Homo sapiens: one gene and its partner. The protein of the gene in region 1 purifies or fractionates together with the protein of each later gene. This does not show direct contact. Each region holds a gene or a part of one and is shown in the gene's direction. Other genes may lie near its edges. The genes, in order: CCDC117 and CDK19.

Region 1 (3,500 bases):
GCTAAGCATGTAGCTGCTGGCACTGCCTTCCCTCAGAGAACTGAACTGTTTTCGGAACCTCGGCCAACAGGGATGTCTCTTTATAATAGTTTGGAGACAGCTACTAGCACAGAAGAAGAGATGGAACTCTAGAAACCAATTTCTACACTAAAGTTGTCAAATGTTAGAAGAATCCTGTGTTCAGTTATGAGACTCTTTGCATAGTATAGGGACTTGAAAGTTTTATGAGACGGGTGTAATAATATCTCCACCTGTGATTTGGGGGTGGGACTCTTATTTTGGGTAGCCATTTATTGACTTCACCTTTTTGCCAAGGACGTTTGTCTCAAGGGAAAAGCAGTTTTCTGTGGGGCTTATTAAAGGAATGTTGGTTTACATTGTCTTCAAAGACAAGTATAGAAGCTGTATGTGTAAGGGTGACTTAAATCATATGTCACATTGTCTAAACTATTCAGACACTTGGAGAATATTCTCCTTGAATTAAAAAAGATGATTAAGAAGGATGCTCCTACAACTGTATCCTGACAGTTAAGTCACAGCTTAATGTGTAGATATGAGCTGTTTACAGTGGTGACTATATATAATTGGGGAGAAGAAGGGAAGAGAGCAGCAGTAGCTTAAGCCTGTTGCTAAGAAATTTAATTTCTTAGCAACTTGTAATTTAGTTATCAATTCAATATAGCTCTGTTGATTAAATAGCCGATAGTATTGTGGCTCTCCTCTTTGACTATGAAAATATAGAGAAAGTTTTTTCTTTAAGGCTTTTTTGCCTTGTGCCACTGTTGCTCCTTGGTTTCCCTTGCGTAATTGATAAGCCCAGTTATTCAGTAATGTTTACAAATTAATTGACTTTGATAGTTAAAAGATTATGAGGTAACCCATCTGCAATTTGCCTGTGGGAGAAGCATCCTTTAGTTCATCTTAAGGAAGTGCTTTATCAGCTAAACCCAACATTGATAACTTTGGTAATTTTTTTAAAAAGTTATACTTGTATTAGCAAGTTTTTTTTTTTTTCCCCCACCGCAACCTCCATCTCCCGGGTTCAAGCAATTCTCCTGCCTCACCCTCCCAAGTAGCTGGGATTACAGGTGCCCACCTCCACGCCCAGCTAATTTTTGTATTTTTAATAGAGACCGGTTTTGCCATGTTGGCCAGGCTGGTCTCGAACTCCTGACCTCAGGTGATCTGCCCACCCCAGCCTCCCAAAATGCTGGGATTACAGGCGTGAGCCACGGCACGCAGCCAGCAAGTTGTTTTTAAATGTTAATATAGAAAACAGTGAAGGATTAGCTGAAAATATATGAGCAGGTGACATTGAGGTTTACTGAAATAGCCAATTTGACTGGTGCTTAGACTATTGTGCAGTAAACCTAAAAGGTAGTGGAGAATTGCTTCCTGCTAGCAGGAAGCCTTCATCTTCTTGAGTACCCAAACCAGGCTTCAGGTGTCCTTTGAGGATAGCCAGGTTTGAAATTTTTAGTTTCTCAGGAAGAGCTCTTCTATGTGGCAGGGGCTGATAGGGCAAAATAAAATGACAATTTCTTTATTGCTACAGAGTATCCTCTATAAGTTATTAAACGAGTGTAATGGTATAATGCCCTTCCATCACACAACAGGACACCACCCCAGTTTTGTTTTCTGGGTTTCTTCCCCCTTTGTAGGAATCAGATACCTTTTGTAGAAAAAAATGGCTTATGCCACGTAAAGGTGAATTTTTAGAAACCACCTTCTAGGCGTTTTTGGAACCCTTACTGAAATCCCTCCCCTTGTTACAGATGGCGTAGAAGTCACAAGTCTGTTAATTGGACTGTTGCTTCTTTGCCTGTTCCTGCTTTCTCTTTCTGTCTGGATAGTCAGGAAAAGATTTAATGTTTAATATTTAAACAAAATATTTAATGTCTATACAGTAAAATTATTCAAACTTCAAACCAGTATTGAAAGCAGTTGGAAACCAGCTAATAGTTTCTTAATCTCAGATTTCGAGATGAATGTAAACTGTATTCTTTTGAAATGTGCAAGTGTTTGATTCATGCCATTTGATAAACTTCTGCCTTGTAGTCATTGTTTGATGGGACCAACTTGTAAAGTATGAGCCTTAAATAAATCTCCATGCTGAAAAATGTGTTCTAATGCAACACAAAAACATGAAGTGACTGCCCAGAGGTAGAGTTAGTGTTTAGGTGGAAAGGGAGATGACAGCTTTCCAAAGAAGGACCTAAAACACACCAAGATTGTCTTCTACAGGAATTGCTGGGCAGGTCTCCGACTAAAGGTCTTATGATGAAAAGGAAGAAACAAGCCCCCAACACAAGGCTCTGATACTACTGGTAAATGTAGGAGAGAATTAAGAATCTGTTAATTAAAATCCAAACAGAGCTTATTTCAGTAGTCAAGTTACCTGACATGATAATTATTTCTGCAGGATAATTGATGTTTTATGTTCTTTTTTGGACTTTATCTTCTTGCAAAAATTTCTACAAAAATTGTTTTCTTCATCCTTGTGGTGCTTATTCATCTGAGCCGTCTCCACAGTCCCAATGCCTCTGCTTTTTGTTTTACTTTTGTAGCATAAGGTTTTTGCTTTTGCTTTGCCTTAAGAGTTCCCTAGGGAGTTACCAGGGCTTTTCGTTTTGTGTAGCTTTTGCAGCATGGATCAAACATTGGCTTACTGTGCTAATGTGTGAAGAGAAAAAATTCTCTAAAGCAGGTGAGCTTTAATGAACAAATGTGTATTTTATCTGAGTTTGAGTAGGGTGCGTTGTGGATTTTGTTTTTTGGGTTTTTTTTTTTTTTTTGTAATTATATGAAGAAAGTCCAGTTCTCATAAATATTGATCACTTAAAAAACTTACTCTTTCTTGAAAAGGTACACATGTAAAATTTAGGAAAATAACTAAAGTAGGGGCTGGAACCATAAGAAGAATGTTTATCAGCACGTTCATTTATTATTTTGGATTTGGAACTTGGCTTTGTTTTTCAATAGTGACAAGAATGGTTCAGTTCTAGGAATGTTCTGGAAGATGCTGTTAATTTTACTTTAAAATGAGAATCTGGTGTTACTGTATTTTATCGTTTTCAATAAAACTTCTTAAGTGTTTTGGACTTTTGAGATATTTGTATTACTCCACTTAAATAATGAAATCAGATATCTCCTTTCCTCTGAATTGTAGTTGAAGCAGCATTCATATCAGTGAAGGACTTAAATTTATCCTGAAGGGATGATTATGTTGGGATAAAGCTAAGTATCATATTTGAATTAGCTGTTCCCACAATAGGCAGGCCATGTGTTGCTATTCTAAAACCCATAGACTGCTTTCCACTCAGAGCAGTTCACTGCTATTGTTAGTATTTAGATGGCAGTGGTAACTGTGTATTCAAAAATGTTAAAATGGGCTAGGTACGATGGTGCACACCTGTGCCAGCACTTTGTGAGACTGAGGCAGGAGGATCACTTAAGCTGAGGAGAGACCAGCCTGGACAATATTAGCAAGACCTTTTCTC
Region 2 (4,032 bases), on another chromosome or scaffold:
ATTGTCCTAATATTAAGAGATTTCCAAGATAGAGTAAGGGTAAGAAAACAAACAAAGTGCAGAACAGTGTGTATATTATGCTATCTTTTGTGTAAACAATGGAGGATAAAATATATATTCATATTTGTTTTTATTTGCATTAAGAAACATTGCAAGGAAAATAAGCAATTAATAAAAGTTGTTACCTCCAGGGAAGCAAGAGGAGTGGTAGTGAGACATTTCAATATATAACCTTGTATATACTTTGATTTTTGAACCATATGAATGTATTATCTAGTCAAAACAAATTTTTTAACACAGGACTTAAAATGAATTTATTCTAGTGGGATCAACAATTGGAAGTCACAGAAAATGTAGTTTTTTAGAAGTGTTGATTAAATATTGCTACTGTGACAACCACTTTCCCAGACAAGTGAGGTCCAGGAATCAGGGATCTGTGCCAGTGTTGGGTGTTTCAAGAGCCTGGTTTAGATGCGGAAGTGGAGTTCTACTTTCCCATCTACTTCAGGCTGCAAAGAGAACATATTTTGCATAGGTAATAAAGGCAAACTCTCTACGTTCATCAATATCAAGGAGTCAGAAAGAAGGAGACAGTCATTGTGCCTGGGGTGAAGTCTCTTGCCACAGTGTAAGTGCTTCAAGGCTGGCCATAGCAATGGGGTCATTAAAAACAGGGTTTGCCAGAGCCAGAGATCCTGAAGTGTTCAAAATGGCAAACTCTCTAGATTTTGGGAGGCCAAGGTGGGCAGATCACTTGAGGTCAGCAGTTTGAGACCAGCCTGGCCAACATGGTAAAACCCTATCTCTACTAAAAATACAAAAATTAGCCGGGCATGGTGGTGCGTACCTGTAATCCCAGCTACTCAGGAGGTTGAGGCAGGAGAATTGCTTGAACCTTGGAGGCGGAGGTTGCAGTGAGCTGAGATTGTGCCATTGCATTCCAGCCTGGGCAACAGAGCAAGACACTGTCTAAAAAAAAAAAGTTACTAAAGTTATTAGAATGGGTAAGCAGTTTATTTTTCTCTGCCTCATTGATCTATTTATATGTCTGTCTTCCTTACCACATTGTGGGAATTGAAGACATGAACTTTAGCTGTAGTGGAAAAAGCATGGACTTTGCAATCAGGCAGATCTATTTAAGTCCAAACCCCTTCTCTTTCTAGCTATTTGACTTTGGTCATGTTATTTTTATCACACTGAGCCTTGGGTTCTGTGTGCATCATAAAATTGTTCTAAAGATTAAGTGAGAGAAAAACATTTGTATATAATCATCTTGCACATATAAAATATTCAAGGGAAGTTTTGTCTTTCCCTTTTTGCATCTTTCACAGAGCTTTACATTTAAAAGGTATTCAAAATATTTATTAAATTGAATATGTTTCTCTTTACCTGTGAAATCTGAACCCTGTTTAAGGACAGCCTGAGGGAGGCATATTTCTAAGGCTTTTACCTTGAGCAATAATGTCATTGTTGCTAAATATTTTATCAAACAGCTGTCTGTTATGCGCAAAGTGCTGTTTCTGCTTGCTGCTCTGGTCTATCTTTCCTACATATCGTCAGAGTCCAGCTTAAAGCTTTTACTTTGTGAAGTCCTATTTCTTTTTTTCTGTTTACAGGACCTGTTCTCAACTTCAGTTTTTATAAGTGGGCATGACAGTCATTCCCTTATACTCACTACTCTTCAAAAAAAAACCCTCAACCACATACTCTAGGGATGGATAAGTACAGGGATTGTTAAATATCTTTCCTTGTTTTGTCGCCTGTTTCTTGAGCACCAATACAGTGCTAGGGTAGATATAAGCAGTATTAATACATGAGTCCTGCCTCCCAAGGAACAGTTTCTTTAGTAAAAAAGATATGCATGTACAAAAATGTAATTAATTATTTAATGATATGATATTACTTTTGTTTGCTGTTTTACATTTTACCATTTAAAATCCTATTTTTAAAAACACATTCCTGCTTGCAGTCTCTGACAAGAAAGAAAGTAAAACAAAACAAAACAGATATACCTAAGCACATAGAAAAAGGATTGGAAAGATATGCACCAAGATATTGACAGAGCTTATCTCTGAATGCCAGTATTTTGGGTGGTATTTTTTTCTTTCATTTTGCTTACCTGGATTCTCTAGATTTTCAGAAATTTCGTTTTGAAGTTATAAGACATTCATCATTTCCCCCTCCTTGCTAACACAACAGTGACCCCTCTCTTTCTTTTGCATTCAGCTTTTGCGAGAATTGAAGCACCCTAATGTGATTGCATTGCAGAAGGTGTTCCTTTCTCACAGTGACAGGAAGGTATGGCTGCTGTTTGATTATGCAGAGCATGACTTGTGGGTAAGTATAATCTCACTGTATTTCTAGGATTGTTTTATATAGGTATGGAGCATATTTATATAAAATACATATTGTTAATGCACAGAAAGGAAAGCTTGCTCTGTTAGCCATATTTCAAAGTCAATATAAACATAAATGTTGATTTTGAAGAATTTAAGCAATAAACTCACATTTTACTGAGAAGATAGTATTTGTAATATTTAGAAATTTTACTTCAGAAAGATTTTAATGAATGGGAGACTATACTTTTTTTGGCCCGGGGGAGACGAACGGGGAAGGGAGTTTTGCTCTTGTTGCCCAGGCTGGAGTGCAGTGGCACGATCTTGGCTCACTGCAACCTCTGCCTCCCAGGTTCAAGCGATTCTCCTGCCTCAGCCTCTTTAGTAGCTGGGATTATAGGCATGCACCACCATGCCTGGCTAATTTTGTATTTTTAGTAGAGACGGGGTTTCTCCATGTTGGTCAGGCTGGTCTCGAACTCCCAACCTCAGGTAATCTGCTCACCTCGGCCTCCCAAAGTGCTGGAATTACAGGCGTGAGCCACCATGCCTGGCGGGAGACTATACTTTTATGCAAGTAATTAATGGCAGTTTACTAATATGTATAGTGAAGATTGCTTTAAGGATGTTTTTATCAACGTATGAAAGAAGCAAAAAATTCTAATTCCTGTCTTTTCAAATTAGGAATCAGAACATTTAAACACTTTATCTGAGGAACTGCTAAAAGTAACAAACTTCAAATCTGGCACTAAGTTAAAATTATGGATAATTAATTTAGCACCACTATGCCTGGCTAATTTTTCAAAAATGTTTTATAGAGACAAGGTCTTGCCACCTTGCACAAGCTGGTCTTGAACTCCTGGGCTCAAGTGATTTTCCTACTTTGGCCTCTCAAACTGTTGAGATTATAGGCATGAGCCATCACACCCAGCCTTTTTTGTTTGTTTGTTTGTTTGAGACAGGGTCTCGCTCTATCACCCAGGCTGGAGTGCAATGGCACAGTTATGGTTCACTGCACCTTTGACCTCCTGGGCTCAAGCGATCCTCCTGCCTCAGCCTTCCAAGTAGCTGGGACCACAGGTGCATGACCACACCTGACTAATAAATTTTGATTTAATATAATGTGGTTTGTCATCTATATAAGTTATAAATCTGTTGAGGAATAACTTTAACAGACTCAGGTCTTAAAGAAACTTTCAGAGTGTATGCTATTATAGCAGATATGGACAAGAATTTCCAGTGTGTTTTTTTTGTTCAATTCTTTTCATGGATATTCACAGACATTGTATTTTCTCCATTTTTCTATATTCCCCTATATGTCAACCAAGGCTTACTGGACAGTGTATGTACTTTACTTTGAACATCAGTGGGGTGATGAAAGAAGATGATGTTGTACATTGGAATAGTCAGATCCTGTAGAACTGTACTGTCCAATACCATATTTCAAAATAAATATAATCATAAATGTTGATTTTAAAGAACTTAAGCAATAAACTGACATTTTACTGAGAAGATAGTATTTGTAATATTTAGAAAATTCACTTCAGAAGTATCTGAAGTGCACACATTGATTTTACCTGTTTCTTTTTTTTTTTTTTTGAAACGGAGTTTCACTTTTGTTGTCCAGGCTGGAGTGCAGTGATGCAATCTCAGCTCACTGCAACCTCCGCCTTCTGGGTTCAAGTGATTCTCCTGC

The links.
Region 2: the proteins of CCDC117 (region 1) and CDK19 purify together in Homo sapiens (co-immunoprecipitation; one large-scale study listed by IntAct). This does not show direct contact.

What each region holds. Positions count from the first base shown.
Region 1 is NC_000022.11:28,786,195-28,789,694, forward strand, and holds the end of CCDC117 (coiled-coil domain-containing protein 117), read left to right. Parts: coding exon 1-132; 3' UTR 133-3,101; downstream 3,102-3,500. UniProt on the Homo sapiens protein: Facilitates DNA repair, cell cycle progression, and cell proliferation through its interaction with CIAO2B.
Region 2 is NC_000006.12:110,668,736-110,672,767, reverse strand, and holds part of CDK19 (cyclin-dependent kinase 19), read left to right. Parts: intron 1-2,226; coding exon 2,227-2,337; intron 2,338-4,032.